2 separate regions of the Homo sapiens genome follow, and region 2 is linked to region 1. Evidence: fine-mapped expression QTL. Tissue or cell type: whole blood. Region 1 holds a variant in brackets; the other region holds the start of a gene. All regions are shown on one strand. Distances are from middle to middle.

What was found. PIP is the estimated chance that this variant, and not a neighbour inherited with it, causes the effect.
Region 2: it holds the start of ENTR1, and the variant in region 1 is fine-mapped to the expression of ENTR1 in whole blood (TOPMed, PIP above 0.99).

What each region holds. Positions count from the first base shown.
Region 1 is chr9:136,357,194-136,363,821 of GRCh38, reverse strand. It overlaps GPSM1 (G protein signaling modulator 1), which reads right to left. Exons shown (of 14, transcript NM_001145638.3): 14 at 4,221-5,808. The coding sequence ends at 5,602. It overlaps DNLZ (DNL-type zinc finger), which reads left to right and starts at 78. Exons shown (of 3, transcript NM_001080849.3): 1 at 78-335; 2 at 694-833; 3 at 1,642-4,339. The coding sequence starts at 108. The coding sequence ends at 1,810. It overlaps LOC124902309 (a long non-coding RNA gene), which reads right to left and starts at 453. Exons shown (of 2, transcript XR_007061863.1): 1 at 370-453. RefSeq lists silencers at 1-342, 443-722. The variant C/G (reference allele first, on the strand shown) is at 2,253.
Region 2 is chr9:136,407,694-136,414,276 of GRCh38, reverse strand. ENTR1 (endosome associated trafficking regulator 1) reads left to right here and starts at 3,663. Exons shown (of 10, transcript NM_001039707.2): 1 at 3,663-3,949; 2 at 4,038-4,187; 3 at 5,210-5,278; 4 at 6,339-6,451. The coding sequence starts at 3,880. PMPCA (peptidase, mitochondrial processing subunit alpha) reads right to left here and starts at 3,619. Exons shown (of 13, transcript NM_015160.3): 1 at 3,538-3,619; 2 at 2,078-2,280; 3 at 1,708-1,787; 4 at 1,385-1,467. The coding sequence starts at 3,608. RefSeq lists enhancers at 3,381-3,430, 3,461-3,550, 4,401-4,560 and silencers at 3,761-3,850, 3,991-4,040.

The DNA of each region.
Region 1 (6,628 bases):
CCCGACCCGGAAGACGGAAGCCCAAGAACGCCGCTTCCGCCCGGCGCCCACTTCCAAGATGGCGGCGGGGCGGGGCCGGGGCAGGGCGGACGGAGCCGGCGAGCGGGATGCTGCGGACTGCGCTGCGCGGCGCGCCGAGGTTGCTGAGTCGCGTGCAGCCCCGGGCGCCCTGCCTGAGGCGGCTGTGGGGCCGCGGGGCCCGTCCAGAGGTCGCGGGGAGGCGGCGGGCCTGGGCCTGGGGCTGGCGGCGCTCAAGCTCCGAGCAGGGGCCGGGGCCCGCGGCGGCTCTGGGGCGCGTGGAGGCGGCGCACTACCAGCTCGTCTACACCTGCAAGGTAGGCGCGCGGCGGGACGGAACCGGGGACAGACCCGTATCTGACGCTACACGGCCTGCGGGGAGAAGCGGCCCGCCGGGGATCCGGGAGGCGGCGTGGTCAAGTCACAGGAAGGAGTGGAGCCACCCCTTGGGGCTTCTGGGAGGGAGCGGAGGCGGACCATGAGGAGGGGTGGAGCCGTCCCTGGGGCGGGGCCTTCCCGGGAGAGGGCGAGGTTGGGGGTGGGTGGAGCTATCCCTCGGGGGCGGGGCCTTCTCTGGAGAGGGTGAGGTGGCTGGAGCTACCCCTAGAGGGGCGGGTCTTCCCGGGAGGGGCGTGGCGGCCCTCACAGCCTCACCAGCTACCCTGTCCCAGCCAGGTCTGCGGGACTAGGTCCTCCAAGCGCATCTCCAAGCTGGCCTATCACCAAGGCGTGGTCATTGTGACCTGCCCCGGCTGCCAGAACCACCATATCATCGCTGACAACCTGGGCTGGTTCTCGGACCTGAATGGGAAGAGGTGAGGCCTGTACCCCAGGGCTGGGCCAGAAGGCCACCCAGAAGTACCCTGGCCTCCCTGGGGGAACCTTGCCCTAGTGTTGAGGTTTATAGATCTCACCTGGGAAATCCAGCCACCTTATCAATACAAGACACACAGTTAAATGAGAATTTCCTATAAAGCCCAGATAGCTTTTGAGTTTAAGTATGCCCCAAGTAGGGGGTGCGTTTTTATTTGTTAAATTTTGCCAGCCCTGTGGCCCTGCCTCCCTGCCTCTGCCTGCCCTCTGCCATCACTGGCAGCCTTGTCCCTCTCTAGCGTGGAACTTTTTTGCCCTCTGCCATCTTGGGGTGGCTGGCCCACAGCAAGGCTTGGGGTGTGGACCAGGAGGTGTGGCCTGGGCCCTGGCTGCTGGGAGAGCAGTGGAGGTGGTGCCGGGAGCCTGGTCCGGGCCTTGCCTGGCCGGGAGGTCCTGGGCAGGACAGTAACAGCGACAGCAGGTCTGAGACCAGCATGCCAGGTGCTTGGTGGTACCTGGCCCTTGGAGCTGGGACTGTCCTCCCATCAGACCCGGGGCTGCAGATTCTTCCCTCTGGCACATAGGGGGCAGGAGCAGGAGACTGGGTTCCTGAGGCGGCGCATACCGGCAGAGACACAGGGCTGGTGAGGGCACACAGGCCAGCGTCTGAAGTGCCCGTGTGGCCTGATGCCACAGGAGTGCTGGGCCTGGTGCTTGCAGCTCTGGCCTGGCCATGGGGCGCCCTGAGGGGACTGAAGTGCAGGGCGGCTGGGGGGCCCTGAAGAGCCATGTTGCCTCCCTGCCCCCCAGAAATATCGAAGAGATCCTGACGGCCAGAGGCGAGCAGGTGCACCGTGTGGCGGGCGAGGGGGCCCTGGAACTGGTTCTGGAGGCTGCAGGGGCCCCCACATCCACTGCAGCTCCGGAAGCGGGTGAGGATGAGGGTCCCCCCAGCCCTGGCAAGACGGAGCCGAGCTGACTCCTGCGCTCCCCGGCACTGTGGGACTTCGGCCTTCCAGAAGGAGGTTTTGGCCCTGGGCCTCTCTGGACGTGGCCTGTTTTCTATCAATAAACAGACATTACTTCCAGATGCTGGGGCCTGTGGCCCTCGTGGCCTTTCTTTTTCTGGAGTTAGAACGATTGCTCTGAATCCCTGGTGCTGCTGGGTGGGACATAGGAGCCGCAGGACCTCTCGCCTCACCACAGTTCCTTCTACACAGAGTCACCCAGCTCTTGCCCACAGAGGCCACAGTCGCGTGGAAAGGGGGCTGGATGTGGCGTCAGAGCCCTTCCTGGCTGTCGCTGCGTGACTTTGAGCAGGTCACCACCCCTGTGAGCCTCAGCCTTCCTCTGCAAGGCCCTTGCCGCCCCCCTGGCCAGCTCTGGCGGCCTCCCTTCCGTGAGCCAGTGCAGACCTGAGC[C/G]CTGGTCCTCGGCCGCCGGCCGTCGGCGAAACAGTGAGCAAACCAGGCTGCCTGCTGGCCCAGGCAGGACGAGCAGCTATGGCGTGGCCGTGTGTTAGGAGCTCCAGACCCCTCCCGGGGGAGCCACCTGGGCCTCCTTCCCTCGGTGGACAGCGCTCTGGACGTCCCCAGGGCCCTCCGAGGTGTGTGGGGTTTGTCTCCCAGCCTTGTCTGTGCGCAGGATGTTCCCGTGTTTATGAAAGCGAGCAAACACAGCAGCCTGTTTATTTGCAGAAGCGTTCTGGGCAGCGTAACCTTCAGCATTCATCACCCGCCACACTCCGGCAGGGAAGAGAATGGGGCGAGGTGGGAGGTGGAGGCAGGACTGAGCACGACAGGGACCCAGTGCGGCCCCTCCCAGCGGGACACGGCCAGGACTGCCAGCTCACATCCGGCCCGTGGGAGGCCGGGGCGCGGCGGCATCGTTCCCAGTGTGCTTGTGGCGTGGGCTTTGCCTCGATTACCCCCTGTCCTTCTTTCAGCCAACAACCCTCTATTATTCCCACCCAGAGCCTTCTGTGCCATTTGTGGAAACTGTCCTCTTCTCGGCTGAGCCACCGGCACCCAGGCCTGCTCCTCCATGGAGGCACTGGCTGGGGGTCTCTTGGGGGCTTGGAAGTGCAGTGGGGCTGGGCTTGGCTTGGCTGCCTCACTGCCTCCAGAGGGCCTGGACCAGCATGTGGGGAGGTCCAGGGAGCCGTCTGGACCTGGAAGTGCAGAATTAGAGCAAGGAGAGCCGCTTGGGCCAACCCCTCCTCTTACGGATGGGGAGATGGCGGCTGGTAGTTGGGATGTGGACGTTACCATGTCTTTTCTGTCTGATGCCAGCACCTCTGGGCCCAGGCTGGCCCTGGAGGGAAATCCTTCCCAAGGCTGGCACGTTCCTAGAGAAGACCTATGGCTACCCCCCGCGTGCCAGAAGCATCCCGCCAGCTCCTGCCTGAGGCCCCCTGGACCCTGTCTCCCTCCGCCCTTCCCTCCCCGCAGCCCCAATCCCACAGCCAGGTTTCTGCAAGGGGCTTTGCCATCCTAATCTCCTGCCACTCTACACCCCCCCGCCCCAGGACATCCCTGCCTCCCGGGCACGGTTGCTGGCCTGGGCATCCCTCGTCACAGCGTCTCTCCAAGCAGGTTCCTCGGCCGCACCTTCAGAGGCTGTCCCAGCCAGTAGCGTGGGCGGCACTGCTGCGCTTCCCTGGCTGTGCGCGGTCCTGGGCCCTGCACGGTTACTTGGACCCTGTGTGCGTGTACCACCACACGCAAGCTGGCTGGGACCCTGGACCTGGAGTACACGTTGATTCTGGTTCCCAAGGCCCCTTCTGGGGTGGAGGAGGCAACGGAGTCAACCAGCACAGAGGCTGTGGCTGCCAACATGGCCAGGTGGGCTGTGGCGAGGGGCAGCAGGACTGCCCGGCGCACCTGTGTGTCCCCTGACGGGGGCCCCGTGGGGGTGCCACCCACCACAAGCAGCGCCCAGACAAGCCCCAAGACTGCAGATCTGCCGTCGGCTCCTCCACTGTGGCTCAGTGTCCAGACCCTGAGCCCAGCCGGATCAGACTCCAGGAAAGGACCTCCCTCCCCCGGGTGCTGGGTGGGCGGCAGCAGGCTGGGTCCTCAGGGGGTCGTGGGGCTGACCTGGGGGCTGCTGCTTCTGGGGGCTGGTCCCGGCCACGTGAGTGTCAGCTCAGAGCATGCTCTGTTTCCCTAGGGGCTGGGAGCGTGAGGAGGTAGGGGTGCAGGAATCAGTGGTGACAGCAGGCAGCCACTTCACCCCTCTGTGCCCCAGCTCCCCCGTGGTTAAATGCAGTGGGAACTCCATCTCTCTGAGGTCTCAGAGGGCCCAGACAGTGGGTATCTGTGGACACTTTGCACAGTGCAGCCTCTTACCGGGTTAGGCCCCCACCCGGGACTAAGCCCATACGGACCACACTCACTTGGCCGACTTTATTTTTCAGGAAAAACAGAAAAACAAATGTACCTCTTGGGTTGGAAAGGACCCATTGACAACATGGCACAGACGTGAGCAATAAATACGCACATACATTCAAGTATGCGGGGGGGCGCTACGTCCTGGAGACCCTGTGTTCGGGCACCTGTCCCTGCTCTCGGGTGCGGCCCTGCCCCTCCAGAAGCAGGTCACCTCACCAGGCCCAGATCTGCCTCTCCATCCTAGCCTGAGAGTGGGGCCTAGAGGCACCCTCCTAGATGGAACTGCCAGCCCTGGGGGCTGTGGGGCCATGGTAGGGCCCTTGGCAGTCTTGGGAGGTGCCAAGGCTGGGTCTGGACAGGAGGAGGCAACCTCAGGCCCCTGGGGCCCATCTCAGGCTCCAGCAGGTCCTGCCAGTCCTAGGATCCCGAACTTGGTGCCCTGTGAGCCCCCTCCCCATGGAGAGAGCAGTGATGTCATCTCCCCCAGCTGGTGGGAGGAGGGGGGTTCTCATATGGGGGGTCTGCAGGGTTGAGCTGAGTGAAGCCTCCCCAGCTTCCACTGACCACCCCCCCACTTGGGTGAGGGTCACAGAGCCTGGTGCTACCTCCCACCCTGACTGGGCACTGCTCTTGCTGCCAGTAAGCATCCCTAGGACCAGGCCCTGCCCTTTTTCCTGGCTTGGGGTTTTGGAATGTCGAAGTTCATGCCCAGCCATTCCCTCTGCTTTAGAGATAGGCCCGGCTCCTGTCGAGGCCCCTGCAGGGCCCTGGGACTCGGCGGGGGGCACCTCAGGGCTGCCACTGCAGCCTGGTCTGCCATGCGTGGTCTGGGGGGCCTTCTGTGGTTGCTGACCTCTGGCCGGGGAGTGGGGAGACAGGCTTGGAGGGAGCCCTGCCCCAGGACGAAGCTGGAGGGGTGGAGCATGCCTGTCACACGGCCATCCCAAGACCAGCTCTGGGGGGACAGAACATGGCCCTGTCCTTGGTGGCCCCAAGAGGCGGCTCAGAGACACCTTTGGGGAGGGTGGGGGAGACAGCAGGGTTTCACATTTGGCAGGGCAGGGCAGAACGGGAAGGGCTTGGGGGAGAGGATGCGGGAGTCTGACAGCACCAGGTCGGGGCCGACATGCCGAAGGCCCCGTCCGGCCTGCGGCAGGGGCAGAAGGGAGGAAGCTGAGGGCCATGGGGGCCAGCCCGGGATGGAAGCACGCCCTCCCACCACGGGCAGCTTGGCCTGAGCCTGTCGCCCTGGGTCGGGGAGGCCGTGGGGCTGCATGCCCAGTGCCTGTCCTCGGCAATGGCCTCGGGAGGACGTGGCTGTGACTGTGAGACCGGCGTCCAGGAGTGGGGGCAGGGTGGGCCTGGCGGTGGGCACAGGGCCTTAGCTCGCACCAGGCTGGCACTGCTGCTGGGGCTCGGGCGGGCCGCCTGCCCCCTGCTCCGGGCCCCCGGCGAGGTCCACCCGCTGCTCGTCCATGCGCTTAGCCTGCACCCTCTGAATGAGGCTGAAGAAGTCCTCGTCCGGCATGGTAGGGCCCCGGGGCAGTACGTCAGGTGGCGGGCAGCGCTGGTCATCGATCCTGGAGGACTGGGTGGACACAGTGCAGTTGGCGGCCTCACCCCCCCAGCCCCAGTGGTCCGGGGCTGGTCAGCAGCGGTGGTTCCAGAGGCCAGCGTGCACTGTTCACGGGCTTCCCCCTGTCCACCCAGGAAATTGGTTCTGGGGCCTGCCTCGCTCTGGGGTCTTGTGCTGGGAGCCCGGGCCCTGAGCGCAGTCTTCTGGTGGCCCCGCCACCAACCCGCAGGAGCCCAGGGCAGGCCCGCCCAGGAAAAGCAGGTCCAGCGATTCCCACTGGGCATGGGTGTGCCAGGCCCAGGAGACAGTGGCTAGGGCGGCGTTGGATGCCTGCTCCCCACATCTGCTGATCCCCAGGGACGGGCATGCGTGGCCGTCCCTCTGCCCAGCCCTGGAAACCAGCACAGCCTGGGACTGACCCTGGCAGGCCTGAGGTCTCAGCTTCCAGAGCCCGAAGTGTGGCGCCCCCCAGGGCTTCCCCTTGTGTCAGGTGGCTGACCCCGTGGGCCTCGCCTGCTCCAGTGTGCAGGCCAGGGGGCCAAGGGGTTGTCTGGGCTTCTCTGAAGCGCCTGGAGCAGGAGGGACGGGAGCTGGCGCAGGCATGCGTGTGGATGGGGGACTCTGGGCCTCTTGGGTGGGGCTGGTTTGGAGGTGGCTGGTCGGACGCCTGGCCCCGGGCCGAGGTTTCCTCTCTGCTGTGGGGAGGACGGCAGACCTGGAAACGTGCTGGCTTGGTTCGTGGTGGGCCAAGCGGCCTCCACCCCCAGCCTGTTCCCAAGTCTACGGACCCTGAACCCCTTCCCAGCAATGGCTGCACCCCACAGGGATGGCG
Region 2 (6,583 bases), 50 kb before region 1:
CTGTCTTACAGTGTGAATGCTTGGTAGGCAGGACTCACAGCTACACACAGCTTGAGTCAAAATGGAGCCACTTCTGATACAGATTTTTGTAACTATACTCTCTCTCAAAAGGTGAAGTGTTTCATCCCAGCCTCCTGTTGACTGAACGAACCCACTGGTGAGTGTGGAAACATGCCCGGCCTTGGCTGGCTTGGGGGACAGCAATGGCTGGCTCGTATGGAGCTTGTCTCACTGTAACATCTGTTCCCGGCATGAGGCACTGCACAGTCAGAAGTGCACAGAGCTGGCCCATGGGACAGGCACGAAATCATGGGGTGCTCTGAGATCAAGTGTGATCAAGGGAGACCATGCAGAGCAGACGCAACAGCCACGAAGAAGAGGGAGCTTGGGAGGCAGGACGCAGTCACCAGTGCCTCTGAAGAGGGGACTTGGCTGGACCTTCACCCTGAAGAGGAGCCATTCTCAGTGACTTTGGCTCTCCACATGGGGAGAATGGCAAGAACAAAAGCCTGAGCTGAGGGCGAGGGGGGCTGGGTCTGAGTCAGGACACCAGCCACCTGGCCAGAGAAAGGAGTTCATCTGGGATGAGTGAGATTCGAGGCAAGAGTCGGAGAATCAAACACACCAGGCAGGAACCTGGCAGGGGCAGCTGGGAGTCAGGGGGTATTAAGAGGCCTTGTTTTAGAACATGAATATGTTACCTCCAAGCTAACTTTAATTCTTAGCATTTAATGTGTCTTTTATGTGTAATTTTTTTAGCATTCAAACTTAAATCAACAATTTTAAAAATCTGTGATCTATATTCACCCATCTCACATTGCCCAGTGCTTTCTGAACAAGCTCCACACCTGGCATGCAAAGACCACTGCACTGTGCTCGAGGCAACACTGCCCCCTCCCTCCACCAAGCAGCCGGCACCTCCCTGGCTCGGTGCCTTTTGCCCCTGCTGTCTCCTGGTCTGGAATGCCTTGTGCCCCGTGTGTCTAGCAAACTCCTTCTGGAACCAGCCCAACCCTGCATTTCCTATGATTCCTTTCCCAACTCCAGACCAAGTCAGCCACTCATCCTCCTGGCTCCTACCGCCTTTGGCTACGGGGTCCATTACGTATGCAAGGCCCTCTGCTCTATCTGGGAACAGGGCCTGCTCTACATCCCTGGCATGCAGCCAACAGCCTGGAGGAACTGACGGGGGTCAACTGAGCTCCTGGGGGCTGTGCTTCTCTGTGTAAGCGCCATCCACCCAAGTCTCCATCCAGGACAGGGCTCCTTCTCCCCGTGAATCTCCACACCTCCCGCTGGGAGGGGCTCAGAGGGAATCTGAGCAACGACAAGAACGTCAGTTCCCAAGGACCCAAAGTCAGTTTGTACACAAAAGCTGGTGTACCTTGATGTCTGGCAGTCACAGATACCCCCATGCTTTTCCAACGTAAGCAGAATTTCATCTTTGCTGTCAAATCGAGCAGTAGACTAGTAAAAATAAATAAGGAAACCTAAATAAGCAATCCAGGCTATCCCTGAAACACAATTTTTTTTTAAAATCTACTTTTGCTTTTAACACACATACAAAAATTATCTTTTAACTTAAAAGTCTTTTATTAACATTAACTTAGCAACTTGATAATTTATTAAAATAACCATTATAGACAAGAAAAATCTCAAACATCCTTCAAAAGTATAGTCTAAAAAATTACAAAACTGGGTACTGACCGAAAATGCCAATTTTTCCAAAAAGTGAGCAATTCCACTAAGGTATTTCGCTTCATATCTCGATCCTGAATTGATAAGAACTAGTAGTAAAAAGAAAATTGACAGGTTACATCAGATATTCAAAATAAGATTTAATCAAGAGAAACATTTTAAGATGTCAATATGACATGATAATCAGATTTAATTACATGAGGGTGATTGTGCTGATGGTTTCACAGGTATATGTGTAGCTCAACATTTATGAAATCGTACACTTTGTTTCCACTCAGGGTACAATTCATAATTGGCATGCTAATTACAACTAACAGTCAACTAAAGCATGTGCATGTTAAAACTGCGGGACCACCCACGACAACACAACAGTACTTACTTCCTACTGTACAAAACTGTCCAAACTTATTCTGAGATGCCACGCGAAGCCCATTATCCAATGTGGTTACTTTGGTTTCAAACTTTTCCTGTCCATCAACTGTAGCAAAAACAGGCTTGGGTACTCCAGGTAAGGGAGAAGAGAGGGGGATGTTGGGATAGGCACCACCACTACTAAACCGTCTGTACGCAGGAGGTCCAAACCTAAAACAGAGAAAGCGGCCCAGTTACAACAGGCTTGAGACAACAAACCTGTGATGACCTGTTAGGTGCGGTTAGTTATGTTTTGTCTGGGTTAAAAGTGAGCATCTGCCTTTCTACAGGACTTATTTCTACAGACTTTGGAAGACAAAGCAGAGGCTGACAACAAAGGCTCAGCCACGGGACCTGGAGCAAGCTGGTTCCGTCCTTTGGGTCTTAGTTGCTATCTCTGTAAAAACAGGGCTTATTAACAGTAACTCACTCTAAGTGCAGTTTGTACACATAAAGCACTTAACAGCTCTGCCCTCCAACAGCACCACCGAAGTCTTGGATAAAAGCCATATCCCTTATTAACCTGGTCCGAAGGCGGGGTGTGACTTGGCCTCTGTCTCCCTCTCCAAACTCATCTCTTGAACCCCCACACTCCCATAGGTCCTGGTCACACTGATTCTTGTCAATTCCTGGAACACATTTGACTCATCAACCCCAAAGCTTCTTCACCGTTCCAGGGCTTGCCCTTTGCCCATGCCTACCCCTTCTTTCATTCTTCAGCTCTTCCCTTAAATGTCACCCTGATGGAGGACTATCCCTCACCAGTCTAGTCTTTCCTGCTATTTTCTATCATGAAAGGCTGCTTGTTTACTCCAAAGCATTTACGCGACTGCCGATATTTTGTTTACGCTCCAGCCTGTATCCATCTCCTGGAGGCAGCACCTCCGCACCCCTGAAACGGCGCTCGTTGTGTGGGGAGGGGCGACGCCTGTGCTGTCGGAACAAAGTTCCAGCGTGGGGAAAGGCAGGCCCGGTCACTTGGGTGGGAGGAGCGGTGGGTACGGAAAGGGTTCTTAAACGTCAGAGATCAACGGACAGACCGCAGCAACCGAGAGCCTGGACCCTGGTGTCAGAACCCTGCGGGTCTAACAGAGCTGGGCCCCCACCGGCTCAGCCTCCTGAAGGAGCACGCGGTAGGTGAAGCGCGGGGGCAAATATGAGGCATGGCCTCGGAGAAGGCCCGTCGACCCGGGAAGTGAGGGGGGGAGAGGACCCAGCAGCCGGGGAGAGGAGAGACAGATGGGACTGCGTCCCCGGGCTCGAGGCGCAAAGCAAGGCAGGGCCCCCGTCGCCTCGGGGACACCAGTGTCCCGAAGTGCGAGCCCGTCCCACGGGCGCCATGTCACCTGTAGAAACCGAAGACGGAGCGTCCAGAAAGACTCGAGCCGCCCCCGCCCCAGGCCGAAGCCTGGTTCGCCTTTGGCTCACCTCAGCCGCGAACAGCCCCAAGAACCCGAGCCCCGCAGCAACCGCGTCGCCGCCAGCACCACAGCCGCCATCTTGCGTCTCCGCCCCGCTTCAGTCGTCACTTCCGCTTCCGCCCACGGCTTCCCCTCCCCCTCGCCGACGGCCCAAGGCGTTCAGGCACGCGCTTTCGGTGCTCGGAGCGGAAGCAGCGGCGAGAGGCTCGGAGGCGCGGGGGCGGCCGAGCGGCGGGCGACGGGGGCGGGCGACGGGGGCGGGCGACGCGGGCCGCGGCACGGGCGGAGCCGGGGCCATGGAGCCGCCGCTGCCGGGCTAGGCAGGTCGTGCCCCGCCGGGCCGGCGGCGATGTCGGGCTACCAGCGCCGCCCGGGCGCCACCCCGCTGTCCCGAGCCCGGAGCCTCGCCATTCCCGACGGTGAGCGGGGCAGGGGCCGAGTCCAGCGGTCCAGGTGGGCGGCGGCCGCCCCGGCACGCAGTAAAGTCGCTGTTGTCGTTGCTTCCAGCTCCAGCGTTCTATGAGCGCCGGTCTTGTCTCCCCCAGCTAAATTGTGAGCGCCCCCATGGCAGGGACCTGGACTCCCCCTTCTTCGGCATTCGGCCGGCCTTTATGTGCTATGTGCCCAGCCCGGTGCTGGCTTCCGTGGGAGACACAGGTGAGAGACGAGGGCGCCGGCCCCGGGGACGCTTCCAGTTCCCGCGCCACGTGTGGCACCTCCGCTGCAGCACGAGCTCGTCCATTGACCCATCAATGTGCAGAGCGCTCACTGCGTGCCAGGCACTCGGAATTCAAAGGCGGAGTCCCCTGCTAGGAGCTCACAGTCTGGTTGCGGGGAGACCTCCCCCAAGACAGACAGTTCCAGTACAGGATGGTTAGTGCCCGGGGAGCACAGGAGCCCGCCCGCTTTCCTCGTGGGGCTGGAGTCGGGGTGCCTTCACCTAGTGGGCAGTGATTGGAAACCGAGCTGGAGCATTCCATCTGCCTCCACAGCCGGGCAGTGGCCAGATCTGGTTCGTCCTCGTTCTACCCAAGCAGAAGTGCTGCTGGGTGCCCGGGGTGTGCAGGAGTGTTTGTGTGGTTATGCCAGGATCTGAGGACATTCGGGGGTTGTCACAAGACAAGAGGACGCGCTTGCCCCGGCTGGGCTTCAAAATCTGCTGAGGAGCCGCTTTCAGACCACGGACACCAGGGCCAGTCTGCAAGTCAGGCCATCTCCAGGGTCACAAGTCTGGGAGCTTGTGTTTTTTTTAAAGTTTTCTCGGCTGACCGGGCGCAGTGGCTTACGCCTGTAATCCCAGCACTTTGGGAGGCCGAGGCAGGCGGATCATGAGGTCAGGAGATTGAGACCATCCTGGCTAACAGGGTGAAAACCCGTCTCTACAAAAAATACAAAAAAATTAGCCGGGCGTGGTGGCAGGTGCCTGTAGTCCCAGCTACTCGGGAGGATGAGGCAGGAGAATGGCGTGAACCCAGGAGGCGGAGCTTGCAGGGAGCCGAGATCGCACCACTGCACTCCAGCTTGGGCGACAGAGCAAGACTCCGTCTCAAAAAAAAAAAAAAAGTTCTCTAGACTGTGAGAACCACTGCAGTGGAGACTCCATGTGCAAAAGAAAAAAACCAAATGTGAGGTCATAAAGACTTCCTGCCAGCATGGTGGGTGACATTGTTTCTTTGCAGATTTTGGCTATGGAAAGGGGAAATGTTCTAAGCAGAGCCCGTCAGGAGCCCACGGGACACATTTTGGAGGTAGAGTAGTTCAGCAACCTTTTCTTCTTGTCTCCATCCAACACAGTGCCAGGCACGTGTCTGGTGGGACTGTCAATGTGACTGGCTATGTGGTGTAGCTGGAGCCCAAAAGAGCAGGTGGGGGTGGGATTTCAAGGGTTCAGTCTTGATCCTAGAGTAGCAGCGAGGTGACATCAGGGAGCGGGGAAGCCCCACCTGGGGGGCTGGGGCCACAGGAGCCAGCTTTACATGGGGCTCACAGCTGGGAGGGTCGAGTGTGGCTGCTTAAGTCCCCGGAGGGTGGGAAGGCGGTGGCAAGAGGGAGAAGGGAAAAGTGGGCGTTATTTAGGCTACCTAGGTAGGAAAGTCGGGAAGAGGGTCAGGGGGCACTGGGTCCCCAGCGTTGCAGCACCTGAGGAGCTGGTTGTTGTTGTTGTTTTTTGAGACAGAGTCTCGCTCTGTCGCCCAGGCTGGAGTACAGTGGCACGATCTCGGCTCACTGCAAGCTCCACCTCCCAGGTTCACGCCATTCTCCTGCCTCAGCCTCCCGAGTAGCTGGGACTACAGGCGCTCACCACCACGCCTGGCTAATTTTTTGTATTTTTAGTAGAGATGAGGTTTCACCGTGTTAGCCAGGATGGTCTCAGTCTCCTGACCTCGTGATCCGCCCGCCTTGACCTCCCACAGTGCTGGGGTACAGGCGTGAGCCACCACACCTGGCCACCTGAGGAGCTTTGAGAGCTCCTAGCACAGGTTGACCTCACACCAGGGAGCTGGGTGTGTGCAGTGGAGTGGCTTGGGTCGTTTTAAAGCTCCCCAGGGGAGCTTTAGTGAGCAGCACAGTGTGGGAGCAGGGGCCGAGGGGTGGAAGGAGAAGATTGCAAATGCAGACGCACGTCTGTGTCACTGCCCACCTTCAGCCACCTTCACACTTCCTAGTGCTGCCTGAGTCATGGTAGAATGACAAGCGTGGCTGCCCGATCTCACATGTGGCCATGCTCTGGAAAGACAGGTGAACAGGAAGGTTCCCTTTCAACGCTCTTCAGTAGACTTTATGCATTTGTGATGTCTGTTATTTCAGATGACAGATTTGAAGATCTGGAAGAGGCAAATCCATTCTCTTTTAGAGAGTTTCTGAAGACCAAGAACCTCGGCCTCTCGAAAGAGGATCCGGCCAGCAGAATTTATGCAAAGGTAAATCCACGGCACTGTGGGCGATGGCTCTGTGGGACGTTTCTGTTCCGGCCTCTGCAGCCTCCTTTGGAGGAATCGTGCATGAGTGTGGCAGAGCAGGCAGGCGTCAGTGCTGGGGAGCAGCTCTGGGCT